2 separate regions of the Homo sapiens genome follow, and region 1 is linked to region 2. The links come from fine-mapping of genetic effects on gene expression. Tissue or cell type: whole blood. Region 2 holds a variant in brackets; the other region holds the start of a gene. All regions are shown on one strand. Distances are between the middles of the regions.

Region 1 (10,546 bases), 31 kb after region 2:
GTAATACGTACTTCTACTTAATAACACATGCTGGAAGATAGTAACCTTTAGCAGAGCCAAGATACAGTTTAAATACAGCAGAATTTTGATAGACTCAAAGTAAATCTTAGCTGTGTGTAAAGGGGTCAATGTCCAGCCTGGACTGCAAAGTAGACTGAGAATTGTGTTGTTCGGAAACAATAAAGTTAAGATAGGTATACAATGCTATGTCCAGAAACCCCCCACCCAAAGCACTGCACCTGGGTCGTAAATTGGGGCTGCTTCATTTTTACTGATATAATTGCCAACACCAAAGTTTGTGATGTCTATGGTTTTAGAGAACAATGTTTCTGAGTGAGTAGGAAAGCTGTAGTCACTTGAAGAAGGGGGTTATTATGATACTTTACAGCTGCAGCACGTCCTTAGGAGACATTGCATCCTGTTAACTTTGCAGCTGACTTTATCTGTGCCTATTTTTCTAGCCTGATGAACAGTTGAGCTGATTTTTTACCTTCTCAGTGTGAGCTAATATTTACTTTCTCATGGGCAATCCTAAATGTCAAATACTGTATTGAGTGCTTTACATACATTATTTCATTTAATCTTAGCAACAATCCTTTGAGGCAAGTGCTAGCATCCTATTTTACAGATGGGGACACTGAGTCTTGGAGATGTTGAAGTGGTTTGGCCCAGGTTTCATACAGCTAGTAAGTGACAAACCCATTTCAAACCTGGGTCTCCCTAACTCTAAACCTAGTCTTCTTAACCTCTATCCTTTAAGCAGATGTAGAAATTAAAGATTATTCAAAGTGAAATGGGTAAAATACAGAGCTGGTTATGGGCAAGTGGCAGGCTCATGCACTATGGCTAGGACCACAGATTGAAACAATTTTCTGGAGGCCAGTTTGGTAAATAATGTAGTAAAAAAATTAACATGTACCCTTTGAGCCAACAATTAATCTTCTAGAAATTTAAAGAAAATAATTTCTAAACTGCACGGAGGCATGCATTAGAATTACAGCATGATTTACAAAAATATACAAACAAAAATACAGACAATGTAAACATTTTTAGTAAGGAATTAAATGGCTAAACAGATACACAATGCAAGAGTATTTAACTATTAGGATGAAAATACATTGTACAGTAAAAGGCACCAGATTACTGATGAGCATTTATCATGTGATTTTATTTTATTTATTTTATTTTTTTGAGATGGAGTCTCACTCTGTTGCCCAGGCTGGAGTGCAGTGAGGCGATCTTGGCTCACTGCAGCTTCTGCCTCCTGGGTTCAAATGATTCTCCTGCCTCAGCCTCCTGAGTAGCTGGGATTACAGGCACCCACCACCACACTGAGTAGAGACAGAGTTTCACAATGTTGGCCAGGCTGGTCTTGAACTCCTGACCTCAGGTGATTCGCCTGTCTCGGCCTCCCAAAGTGCTGGGATTACAGGCGTGATTTTATTTTTATGTAAAATTGACTACATATAGTGTATTTATATGTGCAAATATATATAGAGAAAGGTGTGGAAACATGTTTACTATGTTTCTCTCTGGCTTGAAAAAGTTTATTTTTAAACTTTTTGTGCTGTTCTTTATTGACTGAATATTTTGTGAGTCTGTATCAATTATTATAAAACAAAAAACTATTTGAAAAAAAGAATGTCAAAGTTAAATCAATTCTTGCCTCAGTAACTGGAGTAATTTCATGCACACTAGCCATATATTTTATAGAACTGGAAATCTATTATGCTCTGGAGAAAATCCAACAGGTATGTTCTAGATTTTGCCCGTAGAACTAGGCTGTTTCTAGTCCACCAAAGGATTATATTAATTTATGGAAACAATAGGGTTTGGACTAAAACCAGTTCTATCTGGGCTATAAGAGTTAAATGTTGTCTTACATTTTTATTTATAAATATCTTCAAAGCATTTTCATTTAATTGGAGTTAGTCTTCCTTGTTGATTGGCATTGTATTTTGGGAGTAAATAAATTTTAAATAGCTAAGGTAAATGGATTTTAGAGAGGCTACTTGTACAGTCACGAAGTAAATCTAATGAATCTTTTGGCCCTATATTTAGGGTTGCTCGGGTGGATTAGTAAAATGGGCCTGTTTAGTAAAAGTAGATGGAGTCTGAGAGAAGTTGAGTATGACCAGAGAAAAGATTACCAATTGGAGACATAAAAGGGTGTTATAACTGCTTTGACAAGTGATTATGACTTGTAGAGGAAGGAGAAAAAAGTCAAAGAGTTATTATTTAAGAAACATTACCAGGCGCAGTGGCTCATGACTGTAATCCCAGCACTTTGGGAGGCCGAGGCTGGTGGATAACCTGAGGTCAGGAGTTCAAGACCAGCCTGGCCAACACGGCGAAACCCTGTCTCTACTAAAAATACAAAAAATTAGCCGGGCGTGGTGGCGGGTGCCTGTAATCCCAGCTACTCGGGAGGCTGAGGCAGGAGAATCACTTGAACCCAGGAGGCAGAGGCTGCAGTGAGCTGAGATCGCGCCACTGCACTCCAGCCTGGGCGACAAGAGCGAGACTCTGTTTCAACAACAACAAAAAAGAAACAGTACCATTCTAGAAAAGAACTCTCTCTTTAGCATACATGGATGGTTATGGCAATATAAATTAACACCTAAATAATTTGTCATTCAACAAAATCTTAGCACTGTGTGTCTTGAGGATATTTTAAAGTTAATTACGACCCCGGGCTGCAGAGTGGGAGATTGGAAGAAGGAAATTCAGGAGTTGTTTTGTTAACAGTTGAAGCTGTGGAAATAAACAGTCAACCGAAGCCAGAGGAAAGGAAGGAAAAAAATAAAACCTTGAGGATACCAACATTTTTTATGGCCCCGTAAAAAAGGAGCAGCCCAAGAAAAGTGCAAACGAAGGCAAGTTCAGAAATCAGGTAGAGAGACTCATATTGAAGACAAGGGAGGAGAGTTTCAAAAAGGAGGAGTTAGCAGTATCACGTGCTGTAGAAAGGCCACACGACAGTAGGACTGAAGTGGCCACTAGATTTGGCCTTCAGCACTTACTAGAGTCTAGTGGAGACAGGAGTACCTTGCACAAGTGGCTCATTTGTTGGCACCAGAGGCTAGAACAAGGCACTTTCACACAGTCTGCATTGGACTAGATTGGGAAGTAGGCCCTACATTAGGGGACGAAACTCATGAGTGCCCGGGTATTTTCAGCTATTATTGGGGATAGGGACTCTGCGGGTGGCTAGAGGTACTGCTAAGCCAGAGCTCAGGAGATGCACCTAGGGCCCCAGTAGTAGGTCTCCGATAAGAATCAGGGGAATGAATATATAAATGAATGAATATATGAATGCATGTGGGGGTGTGGTCTAGCGATTACTTTATGAGCGTGACAAGGATAGGAAGAGGATGGTGAAAGCATACAGTAGTACCTGCCTGTGAAAGAAGCTGCCCGTCGACTCAGAGAGCTGCCACGGAGATTGGTGTTTTCAAGGCTGTCAGGTTCCCCAGTTGGGAGAAGGGTGGGAAGGGCTTAAGGATTTACAGAGATTGATTTAGGGGAGAACACACAGGAAGCGAAACAGCAGGAAACGCCGGGAGACAGCAGCAGCAGGACAGGATTGAGGAAGGGTAAGAGTGCGAAATGGGGTAAGAATAAAAGAAAGGAATGGACAGATGTATGCTTTACAAGGCACTTCCACGGCGAGTGACTCATTCATGCTTAGGACAACCCAGGGAGAGACATAGGTATATATTGCATTGCCAGCCTTTGGAATGCGGGATGCGGTCCAGATAAGGCCATCGCAGCTCAGAGAGGCTGTTCAGCCGCTGTTCGATTCCTCTGGTGACAAGAACACTCTACTTTTGGAAGTAGCACTTCTATTAGAGAAGTTAAAAAAAAAAAAAAAAGAAAAGGGAGATAAGAAGAAAGGTGTGGGCCCCTTGAGGGGAAAGATCTGTGAATGACAGACATTTTAGATAATTCATGGAATTGCAGAGCCAGAACGGGTCAGGCAGATCTTTTCATCTGTAAAACGAAGGGGGCAGACGATCTTCCTTTTCTCTTGTCTAATAGCCTGTGAAATCATCTAGGCAACCACCTCCCAATTTTACAGAATAAAAAACGAGGCCCGCGGGATATGTCTCGCTCAAAGTAACAGAACGCCCGAGTGGAGGGACAGGCCCGGAGCCGACTCCGCCCCGTCCGCAGGGCCTCTCGCCGCTCCGACACCTTCCCAGAAAGATAAAGAACAGCGGGAGGCGGCAGGCCCGGCGGCCTAGCTGCGAGCGCCCTGGTGTTCGAGGCCGCTTCCCGGCAGCAGTGGGAGGAACGCCCCGAGGGGAGGGCAGGAGAGGGGCGGGGAGGAGTTGAGACGGGCGGGGAAGAGTTCGGGCCTCCTTTCCCACACTTCGTTAGGACGCCGGCTGGGGCGGGCCGGCAGAGGGCGCGGGGCGGTTCCTCGCTCGGCGGGCCCGGCAGGCCCGGCGGGCTGGGGGCGCGCTGTCCCGGGCGCACTGTCGGAGCTCGCGGGCACCGGGTCGCGGCGGCCCGGGCGGCCGGAGCCGGCAGGGGAAGTGCGGCGGGCGGGCAGGCGGGCGGCCGGGAACGGGCGGGGCGGGGCGGGGCGCGAAGGGGGCGGTGCCGCGAGCGGGGGGCGGTGGCGGCGGCGGCGGTGGCGGCCGAGGAGGAGAACATGGCGGCCGCGGAGAGCGGCTGAAATGCCTGTTCTTCAGGCCGGGCGAGCGGGAGTCTGACGCGATTTGCTGAGCTCTGTCCTCCGACGGCTGCCTCGCGGCCTTGAGGGCCTCCGCCGCCTGTTCGCTGCTGCTCCCTCGAGCGGAGCCTGCGTCAGGTTCCCTCTGCATCCCCCTGCGGGGGGACCCCTGCTCCGGAGGAGGGGGCCGGAGAGCCGCGGCGCCGGGCCCGAGGAGCGGCGGAGGCCGGGGCGGCGCCGCCGCCACGGTCGCGGACGAGTGCGGCGCCGGTGAGCGGGGCCCAGAGGCGGCGGCGGCAGGTGAGTGGCGGGCTGCGGGTGCGGAGCCTCCCGGTGGGTGCAGCTGTCACGAGCCGCGCGGCCGCGGAGGCCCTAGGGGGCGGGGAGCAGCTGGCGCCCCTCCGCCCCCTGCTCTCCTTTCTCCCGCTCCATCCTCCTCCCACTTCCCCGAGTTCCCCTCGCGGCCCGGCGCGGCTGGAGGGGGCGGAGGTCGCAGCTGTCACGGGCACCAGCTGGGGGCTGCTCCCCGCCGGGGGAAATCGCTGCAGCAGCGACTTCTCTCCGCCTCTTTTCCAGTTGCCCTAGTTAGCGCGGAGAGGGCGAGCATCCGCGGAGGGGGTGCGAGCTGCGCGGCCGCCTGCCCGGCGTGGGGAGCGGGCGCCCCGGGCCGCCGCCGAGAGGGGGAGCCGGAAGTCGGCGCGGGCGCCCCTCGGCCCCGACGACGCCGTGACCTTGGCCGGCCCGCTCACCTCTCGGAATCTCGCCTGCCGGGACCGCGAAATGGGGGCGACCGCGGCGTCCCTCTCCGTCGGCGCAGCCCTCGACGGCGCTTGGGTTTGACCCCGGCGCGCTTGCTCGCCCCTTCTCCCGAGAAGGGGTTTCGGAGGTAGACATGGGATGGATACTGGACATGTTCCTGTCGCGGCCCGGGTTTGGTCCCCTTCCTGGGATTCAGCCGAAAGGGCCGAGGAAGGGAAGCAAACATGTTGACGAGGCGATTGGGAGGTGGGGTTGGTTAGTGGGCAGTGACAGAATTCGGGCCGCTCTCTAGTCCCTTGTAAAAGACCTGAAAAAATCGGACACCCAGGGTCTCCAGTCCTTACTACCCAGCTGTGGTGGCTGCTTTTTTATTTTATTTAAAAGCAGTTACCCCCATGGGTAGACACTGCCCAGTCTGACGACGTTAGAGGGAGACGGAGGGGTTGACAATACAGCCTGTGTGTGTGTGACAAGGACAGGCCACGGTGTTGTGTCCGGAGAGTTTCATGGGGAGGAAAACTTTAAGCTGGAGGATCTGTTAGCCTCTCATGCTTGGCCCTCCTCGTTTCTTGTAGAGGTGTTGAACAGGCAGGTGTCCTTGTGCAGAAGGTGACATTTTTTCTTCGGAGACGGTGAGTTTTTAATGTCGAGTGTGATGTTGGTGAGTAAAGGGTTCTTGAGTGAATTGCAGTCCCAGCACCCTCTGTGGATGCCAAGAGGAATCTCTGTGGCGATGATTTGTGAGGGCTGGTGCTTACATTTCAGTGATTAAGAAATCAAGTGTCTGCTTAAAACATTACTGCCGTGAAGCGTAGATTATATGATACAGTTGAGGGATGGATCTCAAGGGTTAAATTTGTTTGAGGTTTGTCTCCTCTTCTGGAATTGGTTGGAGGCTAGTCTCAAAAAAAAAGCAAACAAAACAACAACAATAACAACGAAAGTTGGCCAGAGGGGCCTCCTATGATGTTGTAGGAAGGGGGTCGGATTTCTTCATGTTGAGAATAATGTGAAAAGAAAGTATTTGCTTAGGTCTCTTGGATCTTCAACTAGAAATAGTTTTGGGTTAAAGGTAGCAGTGGGGTTTGATTCAGCTTAACAAATAGGCATTCCTTGAACTATTTGCCATAAATTAGATAAAATGGAAGTGTTTCTGTTTTATCTCCTGTACTTTGTGGAAAGGTCTAATTTGGTTTTGTGAACGAATGTCCGAAATGTTTTATATTTCTTCTTCAGACTCTATGCTTTGGGAACAGTGGGTCACAGAGAGGGTCTGAGTTGGGAATATATGGTTTAGAGAGAAAATAGAGGACTGCTGCTTATAAGAACAGGTGTTTAGTTTGATTTTTGTAGATATTTTCTACTGGTTATTTAACAACATTGAAGTTTGCTTTATAAGGTGCAAAACGTGAATTTTACGTAGCTTACACTTGATCTCTTCCTTATTTCTCTCAGAAAACCTGTAGGATTGTGCCTATTAAATTGCTTTTTGTGTGGTTTAAACCAAGAGAGTATTTTAGATCTGCAGTGGTTTTATTGGAAAAAAAAAAAAAGTGCTTGATGGAGCTAATGGTGATTGTTTCACTTAAACTAGGATTATATAGACAATGCTTCTTCCTGCCTCTTTCTGCGAACATTTGTTTTTGTTTCTCCCTCAATTCCAGGGTTTCATTTCTAGAAATCTGGGCTGCAAACAGAAGCAGCAGTTTGTATAATCCCAAGAACTTGCTTATGCCAGGAAGCTGTAAGGGTAGCATGAAGCGGGTGTGATGTAAAGACACTGCTACTACTTAAGACATTTAACTGTTGAGGGAGTCTAAGGTCAAACTTTAATTTTTGTTGAATTTCCTGTTTTCTGCTTATGTGTTAATCTTTTGGTGGGCAGAAGATTGGGTTGCTATGGTGCTAACTGGTGTATATTGTGAAAGTGCTGGCAACATTTCATGCTTTTACTCTATAGGGAAGGGTGGTAAACAAGCCTAAATAATTTAAAGATGTTGTTCTCAGAATGGAATGTTCTGTGCATGTCTTCTTGATCCTGCTAATCCAGTGAGCGGTCTTCACTAGGACTAAATGTTGAGTAAGTGATGAGGGTGGTATAGAGGTGCTGAAAGGTGGAGTGGTGGAGAGAGGGTATTGGGCATTTTCTTGAAATTCTTTTCCCCAATTCTGTATAGGGAATCTGTATACTAGACTGTGATTTATAATTGTTTTTCAAGGATGTTTTAGTTCTCCCTGCTTGGTTGTCATCAATTTCATATACCTCCTCTTAGATACTACCTCTGTTCCGTACTTTAGTTTGTCTTTTTTGCTGCGTCTCCCAAGGACTCCACATTGTTTGAATGTTATGTTGCATATCTTATGGAGTTGGCTGGCCTTAAGCCATGTGGCTTAACATAGTTTTCATTATAGGGCAGGTGTGGGAGGTCAATACAACGCACAACACGGAGTAAAATCTAAGTCATGGAGCATAGGAGATCCCCGGGACGCTCATGATTGTTTTGGCATTGGTTTTTGCCTTTTAAATATGATTATAACAGAAATTCTCAGAGGACCATCAGCTGCTTTCCTGGCAGAGGTCCAAAAATGTTTTGGAGGGTTCCATTTTGCATTACTTGCAAATATTGGATGCTGTGGTCGGTGTGGGCTCGGGTGAAATCCATGTGTTTCAGGAGGTGGATGTCAGAACACTGTATCTGATCTGGGCTGCAGAACCGTATAAATTTCTCCCTATCTTAGATTAACTTTCCTACCCATTTGGGAAGACTAGACTGTAGGAAAGGACTTTTTAAAATTGCTTCTTTCCCAGATTAGCAGTAGTTTAGCCGTTGGTGATTGGCAACTAAGGATAGGCCTCATGTTCTATTCTTAACATTGAAGATGAGGTCTAGTCATTTAAAACCTTTCCTTTTCTCTTTATATTTTAGTTAGACCTTGTGCCTTTCAACATTTGGTGTCAGAGGTCATAAAATGGCCTAGTGGCAACTAGGTACCAATGTTGGTTGCTTCATTTCATAAGGAGATGAAGGTGTTTTTTTTTTGTTTTTTTTTTTTAATAGCTTAGTTCTGGAAAATGGTTTGTGGGCTATAGTATTTGGATTAATGTATAGAAATGATTATTATATATTTCTGCAGGATACATGGCTGAATAAGGGAAATTATTATAAAACGCTGATACCAACATATAAGTCCAATTCCATAAGTTTAAGTAAAGTGAGTTGTATCCATGCTTCTTCCCCCATAACCCCATCTGCAACACAGAATTTTTGAGGCTCCTTGGAGTGATAGGCTTTTAGAAAAGCTTAGTATGGTTATCATATTTAAAAGATAAGTAGCTTATGCCAAAATAGAAGCTCTAGTCACTCGAGGAGTTATGGAAGACTCACCCTCATCTTGGATATATTTTGTTCTTACCACTCCCCGAGAGTATGTTTTAGTGTGTGGAGGGCAGGGATGTTTGGTTTTACTGAGTAGCCCTGACCTGACCATTAGGCACAGACAGGCCAGACTCATAAAAATAGGTGCAAGCACGGAAGCAAAACGCACCCATTATCAGGACCAGAATTCTAATTGTACTGGATTATCCAGTTTTTCCAGAGTGATGCTTCATTTTTGCCCTTTCAGCTTATAATTGTGGGGCAATTTTAAAGCATCTTTTAGAAAAGAAACTCTGACCAGACAGACAGAGGTGTCCTAGCTCTTCCAGATACTTAGGTTGATGTAGCCTTGAGCTGTTTAACCACACTAAACTTCAGTTTTTATATTTAAAATTGGAGTAACGTACTTGTCCTCATATTGTAATCTTTAAAATTATTAAATGTGTTTAGCATATGATTGGCACATAGACATTAATGACTAACAGGTATTTCATTAGCGAATTCATCACCAAATTCTCGCATTCTTTTCTTTGTAATTTCTCAAATTTTTTCCTTTATTTCTGGTTCTGCAATCTGGTCCTCCTGTCATTTGCACATGGAGTAATGGGAGTCACATTGACTCTGTGGGCCTGAGTTTCTTTATCATTAAATGAGCATGTTGGTCTAATTTCACATTTCTTCTTGTTTTAAAATTCTGTGATTTGTAGGTTTATAGCTGTTTGCTTGCATGCATTTACCTCTCTAATTTGTCCTACACATAATGCTGAAGAAATTCCCTTCTAAAAAAATTTTTTTATGTTATTGTTTTCAGAGGAGATTTTCTGTGGGCAAATTTATCAAATGTAAATCATTTAAACTGATTCTTTCATTTCCCATTCCAGAAAATTTGCTGTAGATGGCATATGCAGAAATACTTCGCAAACTGTAAAGTGCTACGCAATGAAGAAAGTATTATGATAATCATAGATATCTTGCGTCTTTGCTTTTACATGTTCCATTTTCTTCATTTAAATTGGATTTCCTTTATGTTCTCGTGACCTTCAAAAACAGCATCAAAGCTGGTATGTTTTCAAGAAAGCTTGATTTTTATCACTCCCTTAGCATTAGGTACTCTGTTCTGTATAATAAACTTCTCTTTCTCTCTCTTTCTTTTGAGAGAGATTCTCTTTTTAGTGTGTGTTGATTGGTTTTCCTAAACAGATTGGAAAACGCTTGAGATGCCAGGAACTACAACATTTAGAGTTAAAGAGCCTTAAATGATCATTTAGGACAGCCTTCTTAATATTACAGCTGAGCAGACTAAGTCCATGCAGATGTAGTTGGGAATAGGGTTTCTTTATGAGAGTTACTTTTTGTATTTAAAGTTACAATATTACAAAGATATTTTAAATAATAAGAATTCCTGTAAGCTTTTGAGTAATGTGTAAGCTAGGAGGAAAGGAGCATTTTTATTTTTTGACCAAAATATGACTCTCAAATATTGTAAAAAGGTATTAATTAGGAATTAATTAAGACCGTTTTCTCAAAAACTACAAAAGTACCTGTAGAAAAACGTCTGCTTTTCTTGTAAGGCCCTCATTCATAGTCAGCAAATATTTATTGAGTGTTGTCTCTGAGCCAGGTACTGTGCTAGCTCTACATATTACATTTTATAAATGAGGAAACAAGGCTCAGGGAAGTTAAGTGGCTGGCGTAAGATTGCACAGCTTATAGGTGTTAGGGATGACAT
Region 2 (10,546 bases):
GGGATTACAGGTGTGAGCCACTGTGCCTGGCCAGGATGAGAGCATTTTTGATACTCATATTAAGACTGCCTCCTAGAAGATGATAACTGCTGGAAATAAAAGTTTTACAATTAGAGTAAGCAAAGTTATCAGAGAATGGGACAAAACACTCTTTTTTTTTTTTTTTGAGATGGAGTCTTGCTCTGTCGCCCAGGCTGGAGAGCAGTGGCACGATCTCGGCTCACTGCAAGCTCTGCCTCCCGGGTTCACGCCATTCTCCTGCCTCAGCCTCCCGAGTAGCTGGGACTACAGGTGCCCACCACCACGCCCGGCTAATTTTTTGTATTTTTAGCAGAGATGAGGTTTCACCATGTTAGCCAGGATGGTCTCAATCTCCTGACCTTGTGATCCGCCCGACTCGGACTCCCAAAATGCTGGGATTACAGGCTTGAGCTACTGCGCCCGGCCGACAAAACACTCTTGACAATAAATTAATGGGGGAGAGCTCTGCTGGAGATTGAAGCAGAACAGGACCATGAGAAGAAAGGACAGTTTAATGCCAAAATTCTACCAAATACAAAATTCTTTTTTGAAATGGAATGATTGCATAGCGATAAAAATAGCAATCAGGAACAATTAAATGAACTTGGAGCCCTTCATGTACTTGAAGAAACACCTGTAATTTACTATATGGGAACAGCCAAAAGGATAATTATTTAAGCAGCTAAATTAAGGCTTGTTTCTTAACTTTTGATAAATGTGATCTCTTACAAATTCTCAAAGTAGAGAAGGATATTTTATTATACAGCTGTCTAAAATATTGGTTAAAGAGAACTCTTTTGTTTTAACTTATAGTTAACTTTTTTAAAAAATTATGGTTAACTTTTAACTTTCAACTACCAATAGTTCATATTTATAGTTGACTTTTGTAAGTTTTTAAACTGAAAAATAAACTTTTAACTATCAATATGACCAATGTAAATGTGAACTATATGCTTGGATGCAAAGCAGTTCATTAATTCTAATGGTATTGCACATTAATCTTGGCTTCAACACAGTCCAAAACTTGCCTAAGCCCTGTTGGTTGCTGGGGAGTTTTTGATTCTTGTGTATGTGTCTAATTTACTAATGAACCTTGGTGTCATTTAGGGCTGAACCAAGAGCATCTGAACGGGTCTGGCCGATCCCAGGCAGCTGGGGAAGGACACCTCGGTGTACTGAGCAGAGCTGGAAGAACACCAGCGCTGGGATGAGTCAGATACTCTCAGAGTGTGTAGTGAGTCAGAATCAGTGCCCCCACTCCCCTAGCTGTAGCAAAAAAACAAAAAATAAAAAGGAAAAGAAAAAAGGAAGGTATTAAAGGACACACCACAAACCCCCTCCCCGTGACCCTTCGTACCCTGAGTGTTGTGGACCCTGCCTATTCCAAGGAGGCACAGACCAGAGGCCATAATGTAAGCGATGGCCAGAGGTGAAACCAGCAAATCCAACCTCAACCCTAACTCTGACATGATGGACAGCAAGAAAGGGGACAGGTGGGCCAGCACCTGTCACTGGGGTGTCATCATCAGTGATGCATCTTGGGGAATCTGCAAGTGATCTTGGGAGCTGGGAATGCACCAGAATATGTGAGCTCTGGTGTCTTAGAGACTTTGGTTTAAATGTAAATCCTTTCTTTGTCATTAAGTGGGTGTTACTGGGACAAGTCTCTTAAACTCTGAGACACACATCCCTAATCTGAAGGTGATAATGTCCTTTCTCACTAGGTGGTTGGTTTGGTGGGGGTGGGGGGTACAGATTGCTAAAGATGATTTCATGCTTTCACTTAGCTCAACTCTGGGCCTGACATGAATGAGGTACTCCATAAATACTTGCTGAATAAATGTCTAAGTGATGCCACCACTAGATCACCCAGCTGAGGCTGTGCTTGACACCTGGTTGACATGTTTTCCAGGACACGGTCTCTTAAGACCCTGTTGCCTATCCCCTGGAGATCAGGAGCAGAGTCTGTTTCCTCATCTGGGAATATTCTGTGTCCTATAGAGAAAGCTTATGCAGAAAAGTTACACATGGAAACATCTCAAGTATTCAAAAGCACTGTTCAATAATCTACAGACATGCACAGTGTTCATGAAAATGACTCTCCTAGCCAATACGCCACTGGTGAATATTAGTATCTTGGTGATGAGGAACCAGAGGCTTTTGAGGCTTATTTCAGTATTTGTGCTCATTTTTGGAGAAATACCATCCAACATTCTTTTGACCAAATTTTACTGAAAGCTTCTCCTCTGCAAGGTTTTGTTTTAGGTCCACCCAACAGAAAGAATTACAAGATAAGGCTCAGAAGCCCTATCTAAAGCCTGCAATCTAAAGCCTGCAATGACCGCACGGATGCCTGTAGTCCAGGGTCAAGCTGTGGAACAAGAAGCCTGAAGACAGAGTTGTGAGACTGTCTCATTAATTTTTGTAATTCTCACTGGGTCTATTGTTCTGTCACACAAAAAATAATGGTCATAATCATGATGATGATGAGGATGATAATGGTAATAATGTAATTGCAAACATCCCGAGTGCTTCCTATATGCCAAACACTGTGCTAAGAGCTCCATGCATTCACATGTTGCTTCATTTAAGTTTTACAACTCTGTCGGGTAGCTTCTCTTTTAAACTTGATTACAGATAAGAGAATTAAGGCAAAACTTTTCTCTGGAAGATGCAGAAGACATCTGTTTGCTTGTTCATCTGAGTTTCAGCATCATATAAAAATTTGGGAAACAAAAATGGAATAAAAAATGTCATGTTTCTAGATGGTGCTAGAAAGTAGATGTTGAGGGAAAAGAAGAAGAAAACTAATATTATTTGAATATTATGATGTGCCAAGCACCTTTACACATATGATTTTGTTTAATCTTAATTTTGCAGATGAAAAAAATAGAAGATTAGAGAGTTAACGTAAGTTGAGCCCCCAAATGCCTGACTCTAAAGTCCGCATTCTTTTCGTTCTATCATGGAATTCTGGCTCTGTCACTTACTACCCATCTGTGACTTTTTTTATTTTTTTATTTTTTGAGACAGAGTCTTGCTCTGTGGCCCAGGCTGGAGTGCAGTGGTGTGATCTCGGCTTACTGCAACCTCCACCTCCTGGGTTCAAGAGATTCTCCTGCTTCAGCCTCCCAAGTAGCTGGGATTACAGGCACGTGCCACCACGCCCAGCTAATTTTTGGATTAGTAGAGACGGGGTCTCACCATGTTGGCCAGGCTGGTCTTGAACTCCTGACCTCAAGTGATCTGCCCCCCTCAGCCTCCCAAAGTGGTGGGATTACAGGTGTGAGCCACCGCGCCCGGCCCCATCTCTGACATTTTTAAAACTTTGGGGCTGTAACAGTAAAATGGAGATTCAAAGCCTGACCACCTACCCCCAAGGATGTTTTAAGAAATCATGTGAAGTAATCGAGGTGTTTGACAAAAATGAAATAGGCATGGATATTGAGAGCAAATAATCCAAATTTGAATGAAGGAGATATGAGCATAACTATGATACAAAATGTTAGGCGTCATTATACTTGTTTGAGCAAAATGCCTGCAGCACAGAAAAGAGTTATTGCTGTTGCCTGGGTGAGCCATGGAAGAGCCCACAGAGAAAGTGACATTTGAGCTAAGCTCAAATGAGGAGGGTTTCATTAGGTTAAAAAAAGAAAAACAAATAGGGAAGTTGAGGAAGGGCATTTTAAGGAGAGGCCACAGTGGAGGCAAAGGAATGGAGGTGTGAGAGCTTGTGATATGTCCAGGGCGCAGTGAGCTGTAGAGAATGCCAGAGGACCATGTGCCCTGGGATTGGCAGACGGCGAGCCTGGCATGACTGGACCAGATTTAGAAGGGCCTTGAATGCCACCCTGAGGCCTTTGCATTTAATTCTGTAGGCAACTGGGAGCCACCAAGGGTGATTACCCAAAGAATCCATAAGGACAAAGAGTCTGAACAGGGCCTTTTGCCATTCTGTTCTTGTGATGATCACAAAGTCCCATGTTCAGAACATCACAGTCTGTTGCCATGGAAATAGTAATGGGCCTCACTATGGGAATAAATTATCCTCATCATTATACCTTTCTTCCAAGGAACTCAAAGTGTTTGTTGTATGTGTTTTCTTTTCTTTCTTTCTTTCTTTTTTTTAAATAGAAGCACCAGATGGTGGTTAAGGGAAAGAAGAAAGCCTAAAGACTGTTGAATTAAAGGAGATTTCAAAGGAATGGAAGGAAAAACACAAGTTGAATTTTGAAAGGTTTAATCAAAACAGATGGCAGAATATCTCAGCCTGAGGGAAGGGGAAAACTGTCTCAGAAGCCATCTGATTTAGGAGCTTCTTCACCCTGGCTTCCTGGGTCCCTGTCTGCTCCCGCCTGCAGGCTGACTGTTCAAACTGGTTAATGAGGAAGGAAAGGTGTGTGTGTGCACACGCATGCATGTGTGTACCAGATAATAGATATGCCAGACACAAGAATTAACATTGTCAAAATGCCCTTTTAATTAGAGTTCTATAAATACTGTTTATTATGCATGGAATCTTTATTTTCAGATTGATTTTTTTTAATAATCAACAAAGTTTTATTATCTTCACAAAATTGTATCTGCTGTTTCCACTCGGGGTAGAAGAAGGAAACTATTGTTTGTGCTTATCTAATTTGCACACACTTTCCTGTATCACTTTTTTATTTTTATTTATTTATTTATTTTGAGACAGGGTCTCACTCTGCTGGAGCGCAGTGGTGCCATCATAGCTGACTGCAGCCTCGAACTCCTGGGCTCAAGCGACCCTCCCACCTCAGCCTTCTGACTAGCTGGAACTACAGGCATGTGCCACCATGCCCAGCTAATTTTTTTTTTTTTTTTTTTTTTTGAGACAGAGTCTCACTCTATTGCCCAGGCTGGAGTGCAGCGGTGCAATCTTGGCTCACTGCAACCTCTACCTCACAGGTTCAAGCAATTCTCGTGCCTCAGCCTCCCGAGTAGCTGGGACTACAGGGCGTGCGCCACCACCCCCAGCTAATTTTGTTTGTATTTTTAGTAGAGACAGGGTTTCGCCATGTTGGCTAGGCTGGTCTCAAACTCCTGACCTCAGGTGATCCATTCGTCTCGGCCTCCCAAGGTGCTGGAATTACAGGTGTGAGCCACAGCTCCTGGCCTTAATTTTTTGTATATTTTGTAGAGACGGGTTTTTGCCATGTTGCCTAGGTTGTTTCTGAACTCCTGGACTCAAGCTATCCACCCACCTCAGCCTCCCAAAATGCTGGGATTACAGGTGTGAGTCACTGTGATTGGCCCAAGTATCATCCCATTTTAATTCATCGCTCAGGATAGAATAATCCTATCATTATTCCTTGTTACAGAGGTAGGCCCACAGAAATTGCAAATATTGCCCACGTTATTTCTAAGTGGCAGATAAGTAGGAGAGCCCTGATCTGAACTGTGGTCAGCTCAGGCTCCTTCCAAAACTCTGAGACTTCTGGACCTGACACTCCAAACTGAGAGAATCTGAGCAAGTTACTCATTCTGCCTGAGCCTCAGTTTCCTCTATAGGATGGGAAAGCAATGCCTTCTCCAGCATTCTTCCTTTAGCGGCATGGGTATGGAATAGAACTTGAGTCTGAAGAATGGTAGACAGTTCTGGTATCCTGTGCACCTCATTTGAGACCTCTGTGCCCCTGTCTTGCCAGGCTGCCCACGTTATTTTGAGTGGGCAACTCAAGTTCTAAGGATTGAAATAGTTTTTTTTTTTAATTATAAAATGCAAAAGGCAGGAAGAAGTTAGGGCATTGGGGTGCCAGAGAGGTTACATTTAAATAACAAGTATTTAATGAGTGTCTACTAAGTGCCTTCACTGTGTTAGTTTGTGGGGATACTAAAATAAGCAAAA[C/T]GCACAGGGCCCAGCTACCCTAGAGGGCTTAGACAAAGAGCAGGCATGCGAGGATTTCTACGTGGAAGCTGCATTTGAAATGAGGTTTTAGCCATTATCCTCCATGAAAGACAGCTTCCTAAACTGATATCTTATTCCGTCTTCAAGGAAGGAAGGAAAAGCATGTTTTTCTTAACCTGCTCTAACAATCTTAGGCATCCATCCCCACTCCCTGTTCTCCCCAATACAGATCATCCTTATCACATACAATGCTTTTCAGCCTCCTGAATATTCTTGGTTTAGATATGAGCCTCAAATTAGATGGATCAGAGTAAAAATGCTTGAGGATGAATTCTTTATCATTCTACTGTTTATGGACAGCCCTACTGCATAGAAATGCACTGCTGGCTGATAACCCAACTGTCTGGCTGCAGATTGTGGTTTTACTGTGAGTAGGAAGGGGAAGAGAGCAGGGCGAGGTAGCTGCTGCAAAAGAGGAGCAGAGTGAGTACACAGAACCCCAGCCCCCAGGGTTCCCGGCTCATCTGCAGCCTGATCTCAAATCCTTCCAACCTGCCACAGCTCAAAAGGGGAACACTTTTCCATAAAAAGCCATGCCTTTTGGTTTGAATGTTTCTCCAACACACGCTGTCTCTAAAGTGCTTGGTTTTCTCTGCTCACCGACTTTGATTCACCTTACACAGTTCTGCGCACGACTACATTTTACTAAAGCTTAAGTGAATTCGAAAGAGTTTCTTACCCAATGTCGTTGGGTATTGGGGTTGGTGGGAACATAAAAGAACCTTTTCTGAGGAGGAGGACTGAGGTTGGAACCAGTGATGCACATCCCAAACGGCTACAAAATGCCAGGAAGTCTTTAGAGAACTGAGAAAAACCAAAACCAAACAGGGCTTAGAAAACCTGGAAAGGGCCGGACGTGGTGGCCCACGCCTGCAATCCCAGGGCTTTGGGAAGCCAAGGTGGGCAGATGGCTTGAGCTCAGGAGTTCAAGACCAGCCTGCACAACATGGCGAAACCTTGTCTCTACTAAAAATACAAAAATTTAGCTGTGTGTGGTGGTGTGTGCCTGTGGTCCCAGCTCGGGAAGCTGAGGCGGGAGCATCACCTTGAGCCCCGGAGGTTGAGGCTGCTGTGAGCCATGATAGCCATGACAGAGTGCTCCTCCACACTCCAGCTTGAGTGACAGAGCGAGACCTCATCTCTAAAAAAAATTTAAAAAAAGAAAAGAAAAGAAAACCTGGAAAGACAATGATGAGAAGCAGCAGTTGGGAGCAGAGAAGAGAAAGTGATCAGGAGAAATGCAGAAGAGACAGAGACCATTATGAGGGTCTCCTGGATTTTTATGGCCGTCTCAGCTTCATTCTAGAGCAAGAATAGATGGACTTCAGTAGAATTGGCCATGGCCATGGAAAGGATTTTGGATTTTATTTTAGGGTTCATTGGATTGGATGTTGGGAGTCGAGGAGAAGGAGGACTCAAGGACGTCAAGTTGAGCAACCGATGGTGCCATTTATGGAGAGGAAGGCCAGGGTCAAGAGAATCTAAAAAATGTCATTTTGCCATTGTAAATTTGAGTTGTGTTTGGATGCAGGAGTCTGAAACTCAGAGGAGAGGTTCGAATTGGAGAAACGAATTTGGGAGTTGCCGACACATAGATTCTTAACGCCATAGGAATGGAGGTAATCATCCAGGAAGACAGTCCTTCTCATAACCTGCGTTTTAAAAGGGAGAAAATTGAAGCTGGGAGAGGTCCAAAAGCTTGTTAAATAGACCCATTTTGCCACCAGTGAATGATGGAACCAAGATTCAAACCAGGGGCCACAGTGGGTATAGAGTAGCTACTATTATTGCTGTTGTTGTTCTTGTTGTCATGGCTATTATTTCTTGCTGAGGTTAAGAGCTTGGCTCCATTACATTTATGTAAAACCAGCTTAGCTCCCTAAACAGCCCCATAAAATTCCTCTGTGATGATACTCCAGTGCCCTGGGAAATCCTAAGGCTCTGCCTCCCACCTGTCATTCGAAATTGCTTGTCCTGTCCTGGGAGCTCCAGTTCCTGTTCCACTGCCCAGCACCTGGTTATTTCTGCCATGTTTCCCAGATCCTTTGGCCTGACACTTCAGTGGGACTCTCTGTGTGGCATGCACCCAGCTTTGCCCATGGGTGCTATCTTTCCCTTGGCTCCATCAATTACAACCCATGAGCCAGTTGTGCCTCATCTCTGAGGCCACTCCTGGCTCTCAGATCCCTAAAGCAAGTATGGTTCCCTGTGTACTTGCCGGTCCAGGAGGAAAGTTCAGGCAGTATCTTGGCTCTGTCTTTCAATCTATTCTTTCCGTTAAAGGCATCCTGGATATTCTTCTTAGGCCTACCTTATTTTTCCAGACTTGAGCTAATCTAATAAGATATTCATTCCATTGTCTTGCCTCTTCTGAGCCTTTTCTTGCTTTTCTCTTCCATTCTTCCCTTATAGTCTTTAATGCTTTTTAAAAAAACCTACTTTACCTCCTTCTTGTTTTAAGGTGTGCTTGTTTTTTTTTTTGTTTTTGAAGACCTTTCACCACTTCATTCCTAGGTATTGCTTTCTCCCACACCATGCCTGATTTTTCCTAGCTTCAACGTTAAAAAAAAATAGTTTAATCTTCATTGTTACCTTTTTTTTTTTTTTTCTGAGACAGAGTCTCACTCTGTCGCCCAGGCTGCAGTGCAGTGTTACTATCTTGGCTCACTGCAGCCTCCATCTCCACCTCCTAGGTTCAAGCAATTCTCCTGCCTCAGCCTCCCCAGTTGCTGGGACCACAGGCATGCACCACCTTGCCTGGCTAATTTTTGTATTTTTAGTAGAGATGGGGTTTCACCATTTTGGCCAGGCTGGTCTCAAACTCCTGGCCTCACATGATCTGGCCGCCTTGGCCTCCCAAAGTGCTAGGATTACAGGTGTGAGCCACAACACCTGGCTACCACTACCATTTGACATTGGCTAATTCTACCTTGCTCTGGGGTATCTTATCAAAATTCATGAGTATTGTTTGGGAGAGGGCTAGGATTTAATCCTCCACTTTTCCTCCATTGCTAAGAGATCTTCAGGTATAATGCATCTATTGGTTGTTGATGGTCAACATTCATTCGGATTATTCAGTAGCCACGCTGACCAGCTATTTAATATTTTTAAGATTCTCTCCCTTCAAATATCAACATTTCTACAATAGAGGCATACAGAGAATGACAACCTTTTTTTTTTTTTTTTTTTTTTTTGAGATGGAGTCTTGCTCTGTCACCCAGGCTGGAGTGCAGTGGCGCGATCTCGGCTCACTGCAAGCTCCGCCTCCCAGGTTCACGCCATTCTCCTGCCTCAGCCTCCCAAGTAGCTGGGACTACAGGCACCCGCCACCATGCTTGGCAAATTTTTTGTATTTTTAGTAGAGACAGGGTTTCACCATGTTAGCCAGGATGGTCTTGATCTCCTGACCTCATGATCCATCTGCCTTGGCCTCCCAAAGTGCTGGGATTACAGGCGTAAGCCACCGCAACTGGCCGAGAATGACAACCTTTTAACTTGAATAATGAGCCTGAGAATTCACAGAACCTAAATATCAGTTTGTAAGATTCCTGGGGGCCCACTGACCTCTATATTCTTTCTGGAAATAATATGAAGAAATAAGGTCAGCAAAAACTCAAAACAGAAGGTTTATAGGGCTTCCTTGCTGAGAATTGATGCTGCTATTATTCAAAAGGTGAGGTTTCCCTGTGCCTTCATCCAGTAATTCTCAACCAGGGGCACTCTTGACACTTAGGGGAAATATAAGAATTCCCAGGTGCAGGGGAGGGCATAGTTTGAAAAATATTGATTGAACATGTTTTTTCAAAGTATTTCATATATATTATATAGATATATATTTTTGTTTTTTTAAACTCCATCTTAACAAATATATATATGTGTATATATATATGTATTTTTTTTTAAGACAGAGTCTTGCTCTGTCGCCCAGGCTGGAGTGTAGTGGTATGATCTCAGCTCACTGCAACCTCTGCCTCCCCGGTTCAAGCAATTCTCCTGCCTCAGCCTCCTGAGTAGCTGGGATTACAGGCGTCCACCACCACATCCAGCTAACTTTTGTATTTTCAATAGAGATGGAATTTCACCATATTGGCCAGGCTGGTCTCGAACTCCTGACCTTAAGTGATCCACCTGCCTCAGCCTCCACTGCGTTCAGACTAGAATATATTTTTTAATATTTGAAAAATAAATGAGACATTTTGTTTTCATCATGTGAATTAAAGAAAGTAAAACAGCCTGGGCAATAAAGTGAGACTCTGTCTCTGCAAAAAATTAGAAACAAAAAAACTAGTCAGGGCAGGGTGCAGTGGCTCAAGCCTGTGATCCTAGCACTTTGGGAGGCCAAGATAGGTGGATCACTTAAGGTCAGGAGTTCGAGACCAGCCTGGCCAACATGGTGAAACCCCATCTCTACTAAAAATACAAAAATTAGCTGGGCACGGTGGCATGCACCTGTAATCCCCCCTACGCAGGAGGCTGAGGCAGAAGAATCGCTTGAACCCAGGAAGCCAAGGTTGCAGTGAGCTGAGATTGTGCCACTGCACTCCAGCCTGGATGACAGAGTGAGACTCCCTCTCAAAAAAAAAAAAAAGTTAGTCG

Evidence for each region. PIP is the estimated chance that this variant, and not a neighbour inherited with it, causes the effect.
Region 1: NCOA1 starts here. The variant in region 2 is fine-mapped to the expression of NCOA1 in whole blood (TOPMed, PIP above 0.99).

Annotation. Positions count from the first base shown.
Region 1 is chr2:24,486,622-24,497,167 of GRCh38, forward strand. It overlaps NCOA1 (nuclear receptor coactivator 1), which reads left to right and starts at 4,633. Exons shown (of 23, transcript NM_003743.5): 1 at 4,633-4,981. RefSeq lists silencers at 4,286-4,625, 4,603-4,761, 4,916-5,405.
Region 2 is chr2:24,455,593-24,466,138 of GRCh38, forward strand. It overlaps LOC105374329 (a long non-coding RNA gene), which reads left to right. Exons shown (of 3, transcript XR_001739340.3): 3 at 7,482-7,562. Among named protein-coding and RNA genes, the nearest start is that of NCOA1, 30 kb to the right of the region's middle. RefSeq lists an enhancer at 1,367-1,964 and a cis regulatory region at 2,166-2,523. The variant C/T (reference allele first, on the strand shown) is at 5,891.